5 separate regions of the Homo sapiens genome follow, and all the other regions are reported to be linked to region 5. Evidence: microRNA targets listed by miRTarBase, many of them from high-throughput screens and not tested one by one. Region 5 holds a microRNA gene; each other region holds the end of a gene's coding sequence.
The links. Region 5 holds the annotated microRNA hsa-miR-8084 (GAAUACUAAGUAAAAAAUCAGUA, at 1,352-1,374, opposite strand). A microRNA usually pairs through its seed, bases 2 to 8, with sites in the 3' UTR of a target mRNA and lowers its output. Matches are read on the target gene's strand: a 7mer-m8 pairs with bases 2 to 8, a 7mer-A1 pairs with bases 2 to 7 and ends in A, and an 8mer does both.

Region 1: miRTarBase lists CDC14B as a target of hsa-miR-8084. Seed matches in the 3' UTR shown: 7mer-A1 at 130-136.
Region 2: miRTarBase lists CD9 as a target of hsa-miR-8084. Seed matches in the 3' UTR shown: 7mer-m8 at 583-589.
Region 3: the mRNA of FAM241A is a reported target of hsa-miR-8084. The part of its 3' UTR that is shown has no 7-base or 8-base seed match.
Region 4: miRTarBase lists NHS as a target of hsa-miR-8084. The part of its 3' UTR that is shown has no 7-base or 8-base seed match.

The regions. Positions count from the first base shown.
Region 1 is chr9:96,499,990-96,504,143 of GRCh38, forward strand. It overlaps CDC14B (cell division cycle 14B), which reads right to left. Exons shown (of 14, transcript NM_033331.4): 14 at 124-3,800. The coding sequence ends at 3,764. Among named protein-coding and RNA genes, the nearest start is that of HABP4, 52 kb to the left of the region's middle.
Region 2 is chr12:6,237,359-6,241,512 of GRCh38, forward strand. It overlaps CD9 (CD9 molecule), which reads left to right. Exons shown (of 8, transcript NM_001769.4): 8 at 405-908. The coding sequence ends at 470. LOC105369625 (a long non-coding RNA gene) reads right to left here. Exons shown (of 5, transcript XR_001748979.2): 4 at 2,288-2,475. Among named protein-coding and RNA genes, the nearest start is that of CD9, 39 kb to the left of the region's middle. RefSeq lists an enhancer at 3,864-4,154.
Region 3 is chr4:112,186,117-112,190,270 of GRCh38, forward strand. It overlaps FAM241A (family with sequence similarity 241 member A), which reads left to right. Exons shown (of 2, transcript NM_152400.3): 2 at 577-4,154. The coding sequence ends at 822. Among named protein-coding and RNA genes, the nearest start is that of FAM241A, 43 kb to the left of the region's middle.
Region 4 is chrX:17,731,901-17,735,900 of GRCh38, reverse strand. It overlaps NHS (NHS actin remodeling regulator), which reads right to left. Exons shown (of 9, transcript NM_001291867.2): 9 at 1-4,000. The coding sequence ends at 3,437. Among named protein-coding and RNA genes, the nearest start is that of SCML1, 3.6 kb to the left of the region's middle.
Region 5 is chr8:93,026,981-93,031,134 of GRCh38, reverse strand. MIR8084 (microRNA 8084) reads right to left here and starts at 1,384; the gene lies at 1,296-1,384.

The sequences.
Region 1 (4,154 bases), not on the chromosome of region 5:
TATTCCATTATGGCCGTCCTAGAAAACTTACACAGATTCCGGGTTACCTCTGCTTTATGATCTAACCCACTGCCTACCAGAATTCAAAATGCTTGGTAAGTAACACAATAAACAAAAAGGCTGTTGGGTTAATACTTTTAATTACATGATTGTAATTATACAATTTCCACTATTCGATATTTTGTATAAAACCAGTTACAACCCACAAGATTTTCAAATGTGACAATATGTATCAAACTACATACATATGCAAAGTTTACACGCCATTAGGAAGCTTTATCTTAAAAATACCTTCAGGAAAATAAACATTCATTCAACCAGTTCTCTTGGCTTTAAAAAATATGATTAGAAATATACGCTGTAAAAAAAAATCAAGACAATGATTGATCAATACTGATCAGTTACATTTTAAAACTTTTAATAATCTGTACATGAGTGCAGGTTAGATAAAAGTCTGCAAATTATTAATAGAAAACTGCAGTACTATCATCGGATGAACATGTCTGCTGACAATTCTACCAGGTAATTAAGGAGGTAATTTCCTACACAGTATAGGTGAATTGTCCAGTCTTTAAACACATCTGGAGTCATCTCCACTGAGTGACATGGAGAATAACCTGATGTGGGTAAATGGAAGAGCAGCAGATAGCCTCTCCAGGGCAGTTTCAGCGGGAGAGAACATTTAAAGGAACAATAAAATAGGTTTTAAAAGTTGCTTTTGATGAGCACTGCTTTCCAAAATGCAATAATGATTTTTTTTAATGTAGAAAGAGAAGCTGTGTTAAGAACAGACATCCAATGAGTGCACTGCTTCTGTGGCTCCAAAGGTGACTGGGAAAAGAGAAGGCCCCAGGAGAGCCCTCAGGCCACACACAAGCCCAGGCCATCCCGCCCAGCCCAGCGAGCACACTGGCCTCATAACAATGCTTGGGAACTCCTCTAAAACTTGCCTAGGCCCAAGAAAACAGAGAGGTAGCAATCACCCCTGTGAGAGGGCTAGAGAGGAGGGGAGGAAGTAGGTAGGGGACAGGCTAGGGGCATCAAGCTCAGAACAGGGGAATTCTGGAGGCCGCAGAGCTGCGTGCTGCCGGGAAGCACTGGCCACGCCAGGCCATTCTGCTCTCACGAGGCGCTGCTCCTCACCAAATTCTACAAAAAGCTAAGTCCGTCTATACTTCTAGGAACCCAGTTTTGCAGACGCTCTTCCTCCGGACTGTCCCTGACTTTTGATAATTTTGAGTCCCCAGAAAGCTTCAAGAGCACCTAAAAATATTCACTTCCAATTTTAATTCCATCGCAAACCGTCCCAGTGTACTTTCAGGGCTATTTAAGGCTCTTAGGTTAAGGGGATCTCTCCATCTGACACACAGTTTCATGTTCCATAGCAACAAGGTCTTCTATAACAACGACTCTAAGTCAGAATTCCAGAAGATTCTGGTTGTTTGTGGTTTCAGTTGGGGGTGAGGGGAAGAGTCCACTCTCATTCATAGCAGGAAGAACTTTCCATCCCTCAGACCCAGAGACTTCCTGGATGCTAGAGACAGTCCTCATAAGTGTAACACTGCCCTTGCTATGCACACCATCCCAAGTCATTTGGTTATTACAAGGAATGCCTCTTCACCAAATCACAAGTTTTCTATGACTAATTTCAGTGAACCAGTTAAATAGAAAGATTTTTAGAAAGAGCCACAGTGATAGCAATTCTAGGTGGAAACTTGAGCAGGCAACATGAAGAGGCAGTTTATAAAATGAAAAAGGGCTGTGGTTCCAGTGACACCCTTTCTTTTCTTGGACGAAACACCAGGAGGCTCATTCACCGTGAGGGAGACAGTACTCACAAGAGCTGTGGCGCCTACGTTTACTTGTTCTGATGGGATGAAAAGCCAAACTAAGAAGGGATCAGATAGAAGCACGATTTTCACAACTACCTGGATTATTATTAATGGAGGGGATGGCCTTAAAAGGGGTAAGGGGAAGAAGAGGTGCCCTGAGAATTCAATGCTTTATGCATGGCACAGTTTGAATATTTATATTGTCTCAGCTCAAAATAGCAAAAGGAATGTTCCTCCTCCCACCCAAATCTTATTGAAGAGTAGTCTGCCCACAGCCAAGTGGGTCTTTGTGCCTATTCATTTCCAGGGACAGAAAACCACTGTTTTTCTGTGATCCAGTCCCCAGTGTTTAAAAGCTGGCCTGACCCCACCCGACAGTGCCTGGCGGGGAAAGAGTTGCTTGTTTGGCTGAGAACACGGCATCTTCCGTCTCTCATGATGCCGGTCAATTTTATACTTTCTTCCAAGAAAGTACACCAAAATGGAGGCACTGCCTTTCAATTACTTTTTGCATTAAAGACTTTTAACTTGTTTATTCCAACCGCTTTTATTTCTTCCAGTTTTGTGAAAAAGGCAGCTTCTTAAAATGGAGTTGCCTACTAATCTGGCGCACGCCTTGTGGCTTAGGAGGGCATTTGTTTCCCACTGCCTGTCGACATCTCAGCCCTCCATGCTCCCGGCACAGGCAAAAATGGCTTAACAATCATTAAACCACCCACTTCTTATGGAAGGAACTGAGGTGAGTACTATATATTCTTTTATTTCGGGCCCCATTTTTTTTTTTTTTTTTAGCAGCACATCAATTCTGTTTCTGTAACTGCTTCATGGCACAGACTCTGCTGTGTTCCAGTAGGGCTGCGGGAGAAGGCACTCTGCAGAGTTACTAGTTGTGTTCCCTAACCAAAGGCAACAGTGAGATCCAGAAGCAGATCATTGTCACTGAGATCGCAGGCCACGTCAATGGCCTTAGGTGGATCTCATAAGGGAAAAAAAAAATCCAATGTTACAGGGAAGGACTCTAAAAAAGTGGTAACTTTTTTTTTTTGTAAGCCGACATTATTTGGGATTGCTGTTTCCAAGGGGAAAAACCAATAGTGTGTTTCTTCCATTCATGGAAGGAAATATGATTTTAATTTGTATGACTGGCAACCAAACAATGGGCAGCCTCCCAGTTCTTCAGTCCCTGAAGGACAGAAAAAGGAACGACTTGCAACATCTTCCAACTCTGAAGTCAGTTTCTCCTCCTGAGTCTTCTAAAGCTACCATTAATATTCTCTTGCAAGTTTTAGGTTACTAAGGTACCACCTGGTCTTACAACATGCAACAGTGTTTAAATGTGATTTTCACAGATTCTTGTTAATAAAGCACTCTTTGGTGGAAGACAAGCAGCTTGGGTACTTAACAGAGTTAACATTACAACAGTATTACAAATAGTCAAGTGAAGATGATTAAGCCAAATAGTATCAAATTACAGAAAGTACCATTTCAGTAATGCCTTTTGTATCTTTATAAATTTTGACACAGGGTCACAAGGTGAACAGAAAATAAATACATAAAAAACCTCCATCAGATCCTCAATTCTTCTGAAGGCCAGCAACTACAATGATTGCCATCACAGGGACACACATGCACCACAGACCAGCCAGCTCCCTGGGTACCAGAGGGCTTGGGTATTTACACCTGAGACTAAATTTACAACAGCATGTTTGTCATTCAGCTTGAGAGCTGGACCCTTCTCTGAGTCATTTGCTTGCACCCAAACTCAAAGTTCATTATTCAAACTCCAGTGGACATTTTCTCCATTGATCAACTTCTTAGGTGGAAAAAGCAACTAAGGCTTTTGCAATTTTGTTTTGTTTTCAAATTGTGCTAATTTCTGTTGCAGTTTTCAGTCCTAGAGTCTTCCTTCAGCTCTGGTCACAGGTTTTTACTTAACGCAAGACTGTTTTAGTCCTTGAAATGGAGAGACTACAGGGGGAAAAAAAAGGATTTTTACCAGAAAGTTTACACAGCGTCCACAGGCAGTTATCAAAGACAAGGAGGGCAACATAATAAAAATACTGACATGCTAAAAAGTATACGCTTGCTGTAAGTTTCTAATGACAAATACTTTGGAGAAGACAACACAATATCAACCACAAAGGAAAGACAAACAGGAGAAAGGCAGGGCAGAAAAAGGCTCAGTTCTGCAAAAAATAGAAATTTAAAAAAACCAATACGAGTAAATAAAAATCATAAAAGACGGACGGGCAGGGGCAGCAGGGCCAGGAAAGTACCATGACGCCGCCAGGGGCACGTGCTGCAAAGCACTCCTTGTCCTTC
Region 2 (4,154 bases), not on the chromosome of region 5:
AGCAACAGAGCAAGACTCCATCTCAAAAGAAAAAAAAAAGAGTATTAAATAACATACACACAAAGACAAATGCAAAAGTACTAACCTGTATGGACTAGGACTATAGGAAAACCTGGAATTTGAGCATTAAATTTGGCTCTGAGCTTACTTTCCCACCCTGAAAGTTCTCCAAGGAAAATGCTTGTGCAGCTGACTGCCAACCCCCCCAGATTCCTCACGTCCCGCACCCTTCTCATTATCTGGCCTGCATCTCTCCTGCTTCAGCACCTTCTGACTCGTTTGGCCTCCTGGATGCCATTCTCCTTGTCATTTTTCTTGGACTGGGTGACCCATGTCTCTCCCTTTCCCTCAGCCTTCCTTCAGATCAAACCACCCTGATCCTCATGTTTCTTCCTATCTCCTAGATATTTGGCATGATCTTCAGTATGATCTTGTGCTGTGCTATCCGCAGGAACCGCGAGATGGTCTAGAGTCAGCTTACATCCCTGAGCAGGAAAGTTTACCCATGAAGATTGGTGGGATTTTTTGTTTGTTTGTTTTGTTTTGTTTGTTGTTTGTTGTTTGTTTTTTTGCCACTAATTTTAGTATTCATTCTGCATTGCTAGATAAAAGCTGAAGTTACTTTATGTTTGTCTTTTAATGCTTCATTCAATATTGACATTTGTAGTTGAGCGGGGGGTTTGGTTTGCTTTGGTTTATATTTTTTCAGTTGTTTGTTTTTGCTTGTTATATTAAGCAGAAATCCTGCAATGAAAGGTACTATATTTGCTAGACTCTAGACAAGATATTGTACATAAAAGAATTTTTTTGTCTTTAAATAGATACAAATGTCTATCAACTTTAATCAAGTTGTAACTTATATTGAAGACAATTTGATACATAATAAAAAATTATGACAATGTCCTGGACTGGTTTTTGTTTTGTTTAATTATTTTGAGAGCTATTTGGTTTGCAAATGTCTTTCAACTCCTATTAACTCCACCTGCATTTTTTTTTTTTTTTAAGACGGAGTTTCGCTCTTGTTGCCCAGGCTGGAGTGCAATGGCCCGATCTTGGCTCACCACAGCCTCCACCTCCTGGGTTCAAACAATTCTCCTGCCTCAGCTTCCTGAGTAGCTGGGATTACAGGCATGCACCACCACACCCGGCTAATTTTGTATTTTTAGTAGAGACGGGGTTTCTCCGTGTTGGTCAGGCTGGTCTCGAACTCCCAACCTCAGTTGATCCGCCCGCCTCAGCCTCCCAAAGTGCTGGGATTACAGGCGTGAGCCACCGTGCCCGGCCCCACCTGCATTTATATGAGAAGTAGATTGGGAGGTTGCTCACCCCAGTTTACTAATGAAGAAATCTAGATGTGGAGAGATTAAAGGATTCTGATCCAAAGTCACACAGGTGTCAACAGAGGAGTCAGCACCAGCACCTGGTCCTCAGACGCTCATTCAGCAGTGGGGTATATCTTGGGGATATGACAGTACACCTCACACCATGGTGGCAGGAACTTTGTTTTATTCACTACCTAGCACCTAGTATCTGGTGCATGGTAGTGTTCAGTATTTTTTATCAGTTAATATTTTTTGGTTGAATGAATAAATGAGTGTGTACCCATCAGGGTTTCATCAGAAAAGCAGAACCACTAAGAGGTACTTGTTTGAAGAGATTTGTTGTGGGAATTTGACCTTACACAGTCACTGGCACTGGGGCTGCTTAAGCAGGCTCTGCAGACAATCGGGAAGGACAGACGGATATAAAGTAAGGGAGGACAAGCCCAAGTGGAAGCCCTTGAAGGCAGACACATCCGTCTGTGTCAGTTCTTTTTTGTTTTTTTGAGACAGGGTCTCACTCTGTTGCCCAGGCTGGAGTGTCATGGCCCAATCTCAGCTCCCTGCAGCCTTGACCTTCCTGGTCTCAAGCAAATCCTCCCAACTCAGCCTCCCAAGTAGCTAGGACTACAGGCATGAGCCACCACACCTGGCTAATGTTTGTATTTTTTGTAGAGAAGGGTTTTGCCATGTTGCCCAGGCTGGTCTTGAACTCCCGGTCTCAAGCAATCCACCTGCCTTGGCCTCTCCAAAGTGTTGGGATTACAGGCGTGAGCCACTGCACCCGGCCCCATGTCAGTTCCTGCCTCTGCTGAGGTGAGCCAGCAGAGAAGCCACAATTCGTGTGAGCTGTAAAATGACTGCTGCTTCACTTCCCACCTCCAAACCTTCCACAAGTTTCTCCTCTGTGCTCCACTCTAACCGGAAACACACGGGAAGGGAATTCTGGGAAGTGTGGTTCAGCTTACCCAGGTGGACAGATCACAAAGCCACCGCTGCATGGGAGGTGTGATCCGTGCCCAGACTGCACTGTCGTGGGCAATTCGGAGGCAAGCAGGCAATGATGGCAGAGTGGGATGAACAGGAGAAAGGTGAAGTGCAGAGGCATAAGAAACCGATTTTTATGTTCCACTCCTTGATTCCATTTGGGTTCCTCCTTAACATTACAAAAAGAAAACCAGGAAAGAAGGATCAAAATGTCCCTGAATGCCATTACATTCAAACATCAGAACACCAAAGTTGATAGCAGCATTATTCACAACAGCCAAAAGGTGCAAACTCAAGTGTCCTTCAACAGATAAATGGATAAACAATACGTGGCCTATCCATATGATGGGCTAGAATTCCACCTTAAATGCTGCAACATGGATGAATCTTGAGTACGTTATGTTCATTGAAATAAGCCAGACACAAAAGAACAAATATTCTACAATTCCCTTGATAGGAGGTACCTAGAATTGGTAAATTTATAAAGAAAGTAGATTAAAAGTAACCAGAGGCTAGGGAGAAGGGAAAATAGGGAGTTATGGTATAATGAGTACAGAGTTTCTGTTTGGGATAATGAAGAAGTTCTGGAAATAGATGGTGGTGATTGTTGCAAAACTTTGTGAATATACTTAGTGCCACTACATTATATGCTTAAAAATTGTTAAAATGGGCTGAGCACAGCGGCTCACACCTGTAATCCCAGCACTTTGGGAGGTTGAGGTGGGAGGATTGCTTGAGCCCAGTCCAAGACCAACCTGGGCAACATAGTGAGACTGCAACTCTACAACAAAAAAAACTGGCTGGGCATGGTGGTGCACACCTGTGGTCCCAGTTACTTGGGATGCTGAGTTGGGAGGATCACCTGAGCCTGGGAGGTCAGGGCTACAGTGAACCAGGATCTCACCATTGCACTCCAGCCGAAGCAACAGAGCAAGACGCTGTCTAAAAAAAAGAACAAAAAAAGGGTCAAAGTGGTAAATTGTGTATTATATTTTACTAAACACACACAAAAAAATAGCTGGTTTGGCATTATTGAGTGTCCTTGCTGCTCTGTGGCCCTAGGTCCCTTATTAATCTGACGGCTGACGACTGTTCCCGTTGTGGAAGTAACAGGTCAACCATTAATTTTATTTTATTTTATTATTTTTGGGAGATGTCGTCTCGCTTTGTCTCCCAGGCTGGAGTGCAGTGGCATGATCTCGGCTCACTGCAACCTCCGCCTCCCAGGGTCAAGCCATTCTCGTGCCTCAGCCTCCCGAGTAGGTCGGACTACAGGCACCCACCACTATGCCCAGCTAATTTTTGTATTTTTAGTAGAGAAGGGTTTTGCCATGTTGGCCAGGCTGGTCTTGAACTCCTGACCTCAGGTGATCCACCCGCCTTGGCCTCCCAAAGTGCTGGGATTACAGGCGTGAGCCACCACGCCTGGCCAACCATTCATTTTATATAGGAATGGAGGAGACCCCTGCGTGTAACCTCCAGCTCCTTCTAGAGAAAGCAGGTCTCAGAGGCTACGAGCACATTCCATGCTGCAGCTTTGCTGAAGGGTAGGTTAGCGTGGAACAGACTGCAGCTACTTAAATCCTGGAACACCTCGGGGCTATCTATATCCTGCCTTTCTGTTTGTTGTTAATAATGTAAGGACAAATGGGCTAGCTTAAGCAAAAGTGAGCAATTAACGCAAGAATGAAAATGGTTGAGCCTTAGGAAGATTCCAGAAACATGGACCAAGAACTCCTACAGCTCTCCATTTCTGCGCTACTATATTTTGCTCTTCGAGGAGACCAACTTTGTTACTCAGCCGCTTCCCGACCGGCTGCCCCCCAGCTCCCAAGCTTACACAGAGGC
Region 3 (4,154 bases), not on the chromosome of region 5:
ACTAACTACTGGGTAGACATTTGGCCTTATTGTAAAAAAAAAAAATTTGTATTAAAACTATTTGTTTCTCCTGATGAAATTAATAAGAGGCATTTAGGGCATCTATATAATGAACAGGAAACTATGCAAGGGCCTGCGCTGAAGTCTGCTTAGCTGAGCCTAAGACAAAGATCACAGCAGTAGTGGCTGAGGATTGCTCAATAATAACAGCAAACATGCTTTGGTCATCTGAGGCTCGGTTTCTTAACGTCTTAGTGTCAAAGGAACCGTCTAAAAAGAATCTTACCAGGACAGAGCAGTCAGGCCTTGCCTCATAAAACAGGAGGGTGGCAGAAAAGGGTGTTCTGAAATCATGGTCACTCACAAGAGAAATACAAACATGATTCTTCACTTAAGCAGTCATTTTTGTGCAATTCCAGGATCAAAAAGAACATTCCCATTGTGTTAACAGGTACTTGTAGAATAATTATCAGAAGTATGCCCAGCACTTTGGAAGATGAAGAACTAAGGTTCTTAAAGACGTTTACATATTTCTCATGTTATGTTCATGTTTTGTCTTTTTTTTTTTTTTTAAAGGATGTTGAAGACTCACAGAACCACACTGGTGAGCCGGTTGGAGATGACTACAAGAAAATGGGAACACTTTTTGGTGAACTGAACAAAAACCTTATCAACATGGGCTTCACAAGGATGTATTTTGGAGAACGAATAGTGGAACCAGTAATAGTCATTTTCTTTTGGGTTATGCTGTGGTTCCTTGGCCTGCAAGCCCTTGGACTAGTTGCTGTTCTTTGCCTTGTTATTATTTATGTGCAACAGTAAAACATGGCCGAATTGAATTGTTTGACATTTGGTAGCCATATATGTAATTGAAGAAGTTATATATTTCACTTTTTGACAACCGAAAAAGTTTGCCTTGTTTCAAATCATGTGCTGGCTGTTTTGTAAGTAAATTTATACATGGATGTCACTTAAAACTAAACTCTTGATCATAACAGGGTTGAATATATATTTTGAATATACATTAGCTTATTCAAAACTCTTGTTTCACTACTGTGATCTCTGTCTCCTTTATACACCTCTATCCCCATGCCAAATCTTAAGTAACACCACCAGAAAGTGAACAGGGAAAATAACAGGACATGGAATTCAAATCAAGCAATATAGTTCTTATAAAGAGTTCCAATAAAACATTTCAGAAGAAAAAGTATGAAACAAGCTAAAAGTAAGTTTCACTTAGAAAACTTCTCCCCACTCACACTCCCCACCAAATAATCTCATATTATTTGGGAAATATTTGGATTTCAATTGTCCCTACCCAGCCTAAACTAAGGTAAATGATAATTAGCATACACTACCTTAATATTGTGATGAAAATCAGTAAAGATAGAACGTTTTCTAAAGGTCAAAAATAATATATTTATTATTACTGGGGAAAGCTCCCAGGTTAAATATAACTTTTTTAAAATGTAACATTTGGACCTAGACCTACTTTAATATATCATTTGAAGTTTCAGACAATTTTGGTGCTAATTACTTTTTGTGAGTTTTTAAAGTCTCATAGCCTAGTTGACTGCACCCTATGGTAATGCCATATTTTCTTGTATCTAACAAGTTGCATATTTTTTCCTAGAGAGACATTTTCAGTGTATTTTTTTTTAGAAATTTATAATTTTATAGTTCTTTCATAACACTTATTCTGAGTTTTGAAACAATGTATTTCCTATCTTGACATGGATTTTTTCACAAAAAATTTGTATTTTACTGTTGTTTTCAGGAAAAAAATCAGATCATTTTTCTTTGATATCTATATCAGAAAGGTACAATATTAACAGTATAAAACCAAATGCTTAAATTTGGAACTTAGCCAATTTTGATAATCTTTTTCTAAGGCTAAAGTCACATCAGTAATTGGCTAGCCATGTTATTAAGGTGTCTTAATTCAGCATTTTCAGGTTTTATATTGAAATACGCATTTCTTTAAATATTCTTTGAAAATGGAGAATGGCTTTAGTGATATTTTGGGTTTTGTTAGAGAACCTAAAATCTTTACACTTTCATCTCAAAGATTATAAAGGAAAGGGGGGTAGTTAAGATTTAGAATTCAAGTTAAATTTCAGAAATTGGGGCAGTCAGGCATTTGTATCTTTGGTAGGGCAACAAGTAAAACATGTAGAGTGCTTGCTATCCCACTTCATAAAGCTTTTACCCAATCTTATTTCTAAACCTCTGTGCATTCTTAGTGTCTTCTCATTCTGAAACAGAAAATAAGGAAAAACATTTAACTTAGTTTTCTAAAATCAGATAATCCTAAACAAAAATGTTAGTCAGGGTCACTAAAAAGTATTGCACATTTATATAAATACAGTCCTTTTAAAATTTGACTTTTAAAAAACAAAAGACTTTGTACGATATTGTGTTTTTATTGCTTTTGCAATATTTTTATAGTAGCCTTTATGAACTCAGTATAAGTGCAAGTTGTTTGAAAAGGTGTTTTTATTAGTGCACAATAGAATTGTGAGGTTTTCAATAGATGTCATGAGATTTTGTATATCTACATAAAATATCAGTACATTTTTTTCTAATGCTACTGGAAATTTTACTTTTCCTTTGCAACACATAAATGATATGATGTACAAAATAACAGCTCTGGTTCCACCAGTACCTAATGTTGAAAACATTTTTAAAGTAATTTTTAATACTAACTATTTAGTATACTGTCAGTACTGTACATCTGCACACTGGTGTTAATAGGGTATATATTAAATTATATAAAGAAATAAGATATTTTGCTGTTATTCTTTCTACATATATTATTGGTCAGTACATCAAATAATATTTGGCTTTGATATGGGAAAAAACAAACTTTGCCTATGTAATGGAAATAAAATATTTTCTTTTATGAAATATATTAGAATGCAGATTATACTAATATCCTGAAATAAAACTGGTAATTTATTTGGTTCATGGTATAAAGAATTAGATTGGGCCGGGCGCGGTGGCTCACGCCTGTAATCCTAGCACTTTGGGAGGCTGAGGCGGGTGGATCACAAGGTCAGGAGATCGAGACCTTCCTGGCTAACATGGTGAAACCCCATCCCTACTAAAGGTACAAAAAATTAGCCGGGCCTGGTGGCAGGTGCCTGTCGTCCCAGCTACTCAGGAGGCTGAGGCAGGAGAATGGCGTGAACCCGGGAGGCAGAGCTTGCAGTGAGCACTCCAGCACTCTGGGTAACAGAGTGAGACCCCATCTCAAAAAAAAAAAAAAAAAAAAAAAAATTGGATTGAAAATGATTCTCATCATTTCAATCTCAAATACAAGCCAGTTTTAGAAACTGTTATTGCTTATGAATAAAGAAATAGAAGTTACAATGCTAAGGTTATTACATAATGCATACTCATATGGCCAGTAATTCAAAAGAAAAAGGTCGAAGTCTACAAATAAACAGACTGTAGATGAGTAAATCCATTTTTCTTAAAGTAAAAACTCTGTATTTTGTAGAATTCTGTCCTCTCATACCTTAAGCTGTCATGGGCAAGGTATTTTCCCATTCCTGGCTACAGGCAGATCATTCCTAGTCCAGTAGTGTGCTGGAGCAAGCTTGCACTGGCTTACAAGAGCCAACTGTGAACATTTTTTCTGCCTTCAGTGCTGTCAAGTTGGTAGTTTGAAATTGGCCATGGTGAGAGTATTTACACCAAAAAAATTAGTAAACACTGCAAATCAGATCTTTTTTTTTTTTTTTTCCTTGAAAGCCAGCTGTTAAACATACATCAGCACACCCTAGAGGCCACATTCCCATTTCTATTCCTACAGATACGAAAGTAAAGAACAGAACACATTTTGTGAAATAAAAGAAAGCATATGAGGTAAATCCCCATCGACCCACCCAAAACTGAATCTGGCTCTTTCCCTTGTGGGTATTATGGTTCATGGTTATCTTCTGACCAACAAATCTCTATTTAATCATGTTTTGACCACAGAAAATCTCTCTAGGCTGTCACCAAGCTGTAAATCCACTAAAGACTATCCAGGCAATCAGGAAAGGCAAAACTTACAGAATGATAGAGGAAAAATTACAGTATAAGTAAAGGTCTGTTGTAATATAGAAAGCTCAAAATAGTCAAAGCCAGGTTTGGAGCAATCAAAGGCT
Region 4 (4,000 bases), not on the chromosome of region 5:
AAACTGTCACCATTTTTACTAAAAATAAATACAAGACTTAAAGTGTTGCACAGCTCTAAAATATACAAAGGCTTGGATTGAATGTAAACGTTGAAAACATCTTACAAAAGAAACCATCTTTGCAGCAATTTAAAAAGTTCATATTTACAAATATTACAAAAATACAAAATGGATGCAAGTCCATAAACCATTGTCGTTTCGGCCAGCATGAACTGGTTCTAGTACCAAAATAGTTACACTGTAACCTTCTTCATAGTTTTAAATCTTTATTACCATCTAGTTCTCTACGTGCCACCACTGCAGCAAATGCACTCACTCACTGACCTTTGGCAAGAGCAAACAGCATGTTCTGTTTGCTACAACTAGTCCATGTCCTCTACTTAGCCAAAAACAAATCAAAACAACAACAAAACCAAAGTAGAATTTTTAAAAAATGAAAAAATTTCCCCTACACAACATAGATACGTTGTATAAACATAAAAGAACAAAAAATCGCATCAGTGCAAACAACAGAAGAAAAGTTCGGATTGATGTTCTTCACAATACCTAACGTGTGTACCCTGCTTCAAGACGGCAGTGATGTTAAAGACAGCCCTAAATCTTGGTCTTGTTTGCTATGTAATCAAGCCATGTAGAATATTCCAGATTATTAGGGAACTTCCTGCTTTTTCTTCTCAGTTTGTAACTCAATACTCTTTTCCACAGTGAATTTTAAATCCATCTTTATTTGGGTTTTTTAAATCTATGAAATATAAAATAGAGAAACTCTGCTATAGATTTTTAGAGTAAACAAAATAAGTAAAACTATATTATAAGGGTTAGTTCTGTGATCATTACATATAGAAGGTATCTTATTGCCTCACAATTCAAGTCAATATGTATTTTAAAAAATATATGGTACCATTACTTAATGTCAATAATAAAAAGGTGACATTTTTATTAAAGCCAATTCATGTGTTTTCTATTCAAGATTTAGAATCACTTTTAAAGCCCACATACCTTTCTTCACACTTAAAAAACCCCTAACTACACAAAAGCCATACTGCAAACGAACTGCTTTTATGAAATTACGAAAGATCGCCTACTGTGACTGGAAATGACGGTTTCTTATCGCATTTGCCTAAAAACTTTATTTTTAAAACTTTGCAAGGTGTACTTTTCAAATCATGAGACAGATTTATTCATGTTCCCATGTGGTGTCAAACCATGCTGGTTTTCTTAATTAATGGGTTCCAATGAGAAATGGTGGTCCATTTTATTCAAACCCCAAAATATTTTTCTTTTAAGAAAAAGTGTGACATTTTGTAAATGTTCAAACCCTTTACCAGGTAGCTTATCTATCCCCAGTGTGTGTGCGTACACACACACTCACACTCACACACACCCATACACACTCTCTCTGACTCTCCCTCCTCTTATACCCCTCCACCCCCAGCACCCATTTTACATACAAGGATGACAAGAAATTTAGTAACACAGTTTGGTAGTGAAAACAAATAGTAGAAGAAGCCAGACATTTTTTTTCTTTCCAAACAAACAAAACAACAGCAATCAGATTATCTATTCTTAATCTGTAGCAGTTTAGAAATCATTTCTATTGAAAGACAGTATCTTCTTAGACCAGGCTTCCTCCTTCATTTTGCATGAATTAATCCAAAATGCAAACCCTCTTCCACACCTCCTACTTTCCCAACTACCACTTGCATAAGCTTAAAGCCAGCAGCTTGTCAATTTCTTGGTAACATTGGTATGTTCTATCACTCTAATCACATTCTAGTCTTTTATAAGTCAGATCCCTTCTTAATTCTCTCTCTGTTCTACCTCTCCCATTCAAAACCTATTCTAAGTACATAGCTGCTTATATTTCTGACATAAGATTCCAAACATTAGTATAAGTTCATGTTAAAATCAGAGGTGTAAAAACCATTTGCAGATTTTAACGTGTAACTACATTTTTTTTTCAGTTTTAAGACAAGAAAATTCAAGTAATTTCAAGTAATTCAGCTTGTTTCCCTGCCTTTATTTTATCAGAGCACATGCCCTGACATTTCCTCTCCCACCCTCCACCCTCCCCTTTTGCCATCAAGCAGACACTATAGTAAAACCAGACAAAAACTCAGTTGTATGTAGTATTGTGAACCAGAGCTGTTCCCCATTCCCAGTTTAACAATGAGTATAAATAATGCATATACACATACCTATTTTCCAACTACATTGTTCACAGTGTCATTTCTGTTAATTTTTAGGTAGCATGAATCTCATCAGCACAGAGAGAAAGCTTCACTGAAAACTCATTACAGGTACTTACTGATTAATCAATAGCTCTGTGGCATGCTTAGGTTTTATTTTTGTTAGTTTAAGAACCTGGAGCTAATTTCTAAACTGTTTAAGGAGTTTAATGATTACAGTCATTAGTTATGACCGTTTATGTCCCCAGTAGCCTAATATAAAACATAACCTAAAATTAACTACTATTTTCCCTACTCATTCTCTTTAAAGCAATCCATTGAAAAAATTAAAATCTAAAGGACACTGTCAAATGCTGTTGTTCAGGGCTTTGTGTTGAGAATGATGACTTCTCTCACTGATTAAAAAAAAAATCAAAAGCATGCTTTTCATTCTGTCCAAATTACCACACAACAAATCACAGCCATGGGTTGCTATTAGTTTGTTTGGTGCTGCAATTTGTCATAAAAATGATTAGATCTGAATTCATTATTTTAATTTATTCATATTTCAGTATATGACCTCAAGATTTCCTTTAGTTCACCAGTTTAAAATTCATATTTGAGGTTTACCACTCAGAAATCATATTGGTGGACATTTAAATATGGCATTTGATATGAAAATGGTATTCACAGAATACAGTTATTACATTTTATTTTTGTGTATTCTATAAACAGTTGGTGTGCAGTAGATAATTGACCACATGTCCACTCATCATTGATAAATCTATTTACACATTTTTATCAAAAATATGGTATTTACATATGTGTAGTTCTTTCTTCTAAATTTTGCTTTAGTTTGTTTTAATGTAAAAAAATACCAAACATCCAGAGTAATTTCATCTTCTTAAAGAATAATGACAGTGAGGGCTTTAGTTTCTGAATAGGCAGCTCTGGGAAAACGTTTTCTAGGTGTCATGAAAATTAGACAATTTTGTATCCTCTATTTTCACAAGGAAGGAGATTGCGTAAATCAAACTATGCTAAAGAAAAACATGAAAGACTGCAGCTACTTAAAATATGGAAACTAATCAAGAATGTCTAAACCACTTTCTGTTTACCCAGCACATACTGTATTTAGAAATTCATTCATTGCTTAGCAGTGATGCTACCCCATCAAGTTGAGACTTTTCCCAAGTCCTCTGTTCTGTTCCTCCATCCTCATGTGAGTAAGGGTTTTGGCCTTTGCCAGGCAGCCTGGTACAGGCAGTCTATGTTGAACTCTGGGAGGAACGGTCGTCATGTGGGCTCCCGTCAGAATTTTCCGTCTCTCCCTCGGAGATTGCCTGCATGGGCGTATTGTACAGCCGGCAGCGGACACTGTAGCGGCTGCTGCTGGCTGCAGGAGGGGCCCGAGAACGTCCAACCCTTGCTGATGCTGAGGTGGCAAAGCTCTTCGAGGAAAAGCCTTCTGCATTAACTCGTGGGGAGCATGGAGAGAGTGGGGACAATGCCTCAGCCCCTTGTGACCCCTGATGGGCATCATCGGTGCTCTGAGGGGACTCTGCTGTGAGCTCCCCAGGAGGTTTGGGCAGTATGGGGCTCTTCAGGATCTCAGTGGCAGACATGCGGTAACTAGAATCTGAGCGACTGCCTTTCTTGAGCAGTAACAGCTTAAACTCTTCATTGGATGTGTTGGACTTTTTGGCATTTCGGTATATGAGACCAGGAGACCTCTGGCTGTTGGGGGTTGTCACATTACTGCTGGGTGAAGTGATGGAACTGGCGCTGCTGCTGCTACTGCTGAGGGGAGCTCTCGATTTGCTTCGAACAGA
Region 5 (4,154 bases):
ATGAGGAAAAAGCAGGTAACAAAGGAAAGTCACTGATTTCATGGAGCTTGCATTCTAGTGAATACAATATATGAAAATATATATATATAGGGAAGCAACATAGATGTTTGAGTTGTTGGGCTATTGAAAAACTGCTGCTAGGACAATTTGTTATCCATTTGGAAAACATAAAATTTAGAATAGTACTTTATGCCACATACACAAAAAATTATGCCAAGAAATTTAAAATTTTAAATGTAAAAGGCACAGCTTTAAAACTTTTAGAAGAAATGTCCATTTACTAATTACATTTGTAATTTATTAAACATCTACTTGTACCAAGCAATTTTGTGTGTATAATGGATACATCAGTGAAAATAAAATACAAATATCTTTGCTTTTATGAAGTATACATATAATTCATTAAGACATAATAAAAACATAAACAAGCAAACTTAGAAACAAGTAACAAGTAACAAGTAAACAAGACAACTAGAGCCAATGGGGAGAGGGAAGTAATGAGTGCCTGCAGAGCTGGGGCTAGGGTTGCAATTTTAAGTAGAATGGTGTACTTGTTGGTTTTGCATTACTATGAAAGAAAACCTGAGACTGGATAACTTATCAAGAAAAGAAGCTTATTTGGCTCACAGTTCTGCAGGCTGTACGAGCATGGCACAAACACCTGCTTGGCTTCTGGTGAGGTCTCAGGATGCTTTTACTCACGGCAGAGGGTTAAGTGGGAGCAGGCGTGTCACCTGTTGAGAGCAGGAGTGAGAGAGAGGGGAGAAGGTGCCAACTTTTTTTAAACAACCAGCTCTCTGGTGAACTAATGGAGTGAGAACTCACTCATTACCATGAGGACAGTACCAAGCCATTCATGGGGGATCTGTCTGTGACCCAGAGACTTCCCACTAGACCCCACCTCCTACACTGGGAATCACAATTTCTTATGAAATTTGGAGTGGCACACATCCAAACCATATCAGATGGTCAGGGAATTATAGGAGAAAATTCTCTGTAACCTTAGGATATAGAAAGATCCTGAAATAAGACTTAAAAAACAATTTAAAAACTCCACAAACCATAAAGGGAATGCTTAGTTAATTTGGCTGCATCAGAGTAAATACTTTTATACATCAAAAGACACCAGAAAGAAAGTGAAAAGAAATTGAGAAGATATTTGCAATCTGTAATTCCTCCAAGTATTAGTATCCAGAATAGGCAAAGAATTTTAATGAATGTGGAAGAAAAATACAAACAACCAATAGAAAAAAATAGACGCAGGATATGAATATGCAACTCATAAAAGAGGAAACCCAAACTAAACCTAAGAAAAAATACTCAGTATCGAGGAAAATATAAATTTAATCCATACTGATTTTTTACTTAGTATTCTATTTATCTGTCTATCTTATCAAATTAGTTAAGATTCTAAAAGAAGGATTTCACTGAGATGGGCACAGCCATGAACGGTTGCTGGGATCAGAGAGGTAGCATTATTCTGAATTTGACTGAATGCTTTTGCACCTCCTGTCAGAATAATGGCATGTGCTTTTGGGTTACATTGGATATAAGAACCACGAATCTAGGAAGCAATTGAGTTCTGGCTCTACTTGTCCTTCTGAGCTATGCATAAGATTAAACACACCTCCCTTAATGTCTATAGTAAATGTAGATTTCTTCTTCTATGTATAGAAGTCCTTGAAGATGAAAAAAGGAAGAAAATGGTACTCTCAAGAACCAAGGGCATTTGAAATATACCAAGCCAAGTTGATGTCTAATTACTTAAGAAACATCAATTTATAGATTACCCAGGACCCTTGTTTCTTATTTTCTTTCTTGATGCTCAGTTAATGTTTATTTCAATTCAATACTTATTAAAGTCCATCGAAAGTGATAAAATCCAGTCTTATAAAAATATTGCTCATTAAAACTGCTATAAAAATGAACTGTCCTGTGCATGATGTCAAAATGAACTTTCTAAAATGCACATCTGGTCACTACACTCCCATATACATTCTGTATTCCAACTTTAATAAATTACCTGCCTTTCTGAAAACAGAAGATGCTTTTGCAACTAACACATTCTGTTCTCTCTATTCTAGAAATATTTATGGGGCACCTATGATATGCCAGGCACTGTTATAGTCCCTGGGGTTTCAGCTATAAATAAATAATAAACATCATGTTTTCATGAAACTTCTATTAAAGTGGGAGGACATATACAATAGCATTAAAAATAAATAATATATCAGTGTCCTGAGAACAATTTTTCAAAAAGGATATGGGGATAGAGTGATGGAGCAGGGCTATTTTAGGTAGAATGGTAAAGAAAGACTTGGATTGGAAGAAATTTGAGCAAAGATTTGAGGGAAGTGAGGGAGCCAGCCAAGCAGTTACCAAAAAATGAATGCTCTGTATTTGTCAACAATGTAATCAAAATAGAGGGTTAGTGCTTAAAGTCTAAAAATATGAAGGGCAAGATGCCAGTATCTGAAAACAAATAAAATATTTTAAACATTCTCACTCTGCCAAAGAATATTTTTCTCAGAAGTAAAAAGAAAATGGTATAGCCTTTTGAGATTCACAGACTATCCTCCTAGTGGAATGATCAATTCTGTAAGCGTTGGACCACAGAAATATTTAACTTTTGAAATTCAATATAGATATATCTTATTCTCATAAAATATTTTCTATAGAAAAATAAAAGGGTCTGATATTTAACTTAACGCATGAGCGTGATTCACCTATTTTCTTCTTACCTAAGACAATTCTTTGTATTCTCTTTGTGTGCAGAAGTTGAGTCTTGCTTTTTGTACTGTATTTTCTCTGCTATTCCTTCCTCCAGTTAAGATACTGAGATCTAGAATGAAATTACCAACAAGCACCTGAACACTCCTGCAAAACTCTTTAAACAGGTGAAATATGTGTATCTGGACTTTACTGGGGATATTTAAAATATAAGTAGTAATCTGAGGACTGGTTATCATCATCTTCCATGGGGCTCAACCAGTCTTTTCAATAACTTGCTTTCTCAAGGGTTCATTTCGTGGCTAGAAGTGTAACCATCACTCCAAGCACTGACAGCTGTCGCAATGTCCCCTGTCCAGCTCCCTAAACACATAGTTCATTCTTGAACCACTCTGTCTTTCTTGAATTTGTAAACTATACTGGATGTACTAACACCAAATAACACTCATCCCACCACATCCTTCCTAGTAGGACATATGGGTAAATGAAAGAGAAGGATACAAAAGTAAGTATTTCTGGTCATATGAAAAATATAATTAAAGACAGGGATAAAAGGTATTTTTAAAGACATCTTGATTACAAATTAAACATTTAAAATAGCCATGGAGTACTGGGGAAATAAAATGGCAAATTGGCCATTTGGAGATCTATTCATTTTTTATTCATTCATTAATTTTTCAGTAAGCATTTCTTGAACATTTACTCTACATCTGACATCATGACAAGATCTGGAATTAAACAGTTGTTTCAAAATATAATCACTGTTCTTGAAGAAGTAGTAGGTCATAAACACAAAAATTATTACAATATGATCTTGTGAGTGCTCTGTGAAAGCTTTATGCAATCAATTTAGAAATGTAGGGAGAGAGACCCAAAACCCATTCTGAGTTGGGGAAGACAGGGGGTCAAGCAGAGCTTCCTGGAAACATGTTTTTTCTTTGAATTTGAATAATAATTCTAGTAAATTAGCATTTCAAAGCCCAGAATATTTCCTTTCCATAAACTACATAGATTAACCATTTCCCATTATTTGCACACGCTTATATGCCTTTCCTTTAACTATGTCTTCAGCTACATCAAAACAATTGGGGTCACCACTTTTTCAGACCATTCCCAGAAACGCTCACCCCCTCCCCCTCTCTCTTGGCCAGTGGCTCTTCCAGGAATAAATGACGACACGATCTCAAATATTTCACAATATATGAAACTGTTGGGTCATTCCTGGAAATACTGCATTCAGGGATTGACACATGATCAGAAGCTTGAACCCGTAAAGATTTCATTTGTTCTGCTTGGACCCCTGAAAATTATCTTTCAAAGCAGAGATATCCGTCTCTGGAGGGAACTTGACCAGACTTCCACAGTAAAGAAATATTTCACCTAGTTTGTACGGTACAGTTGATTTCTGCAGTGATTTCCTTTTA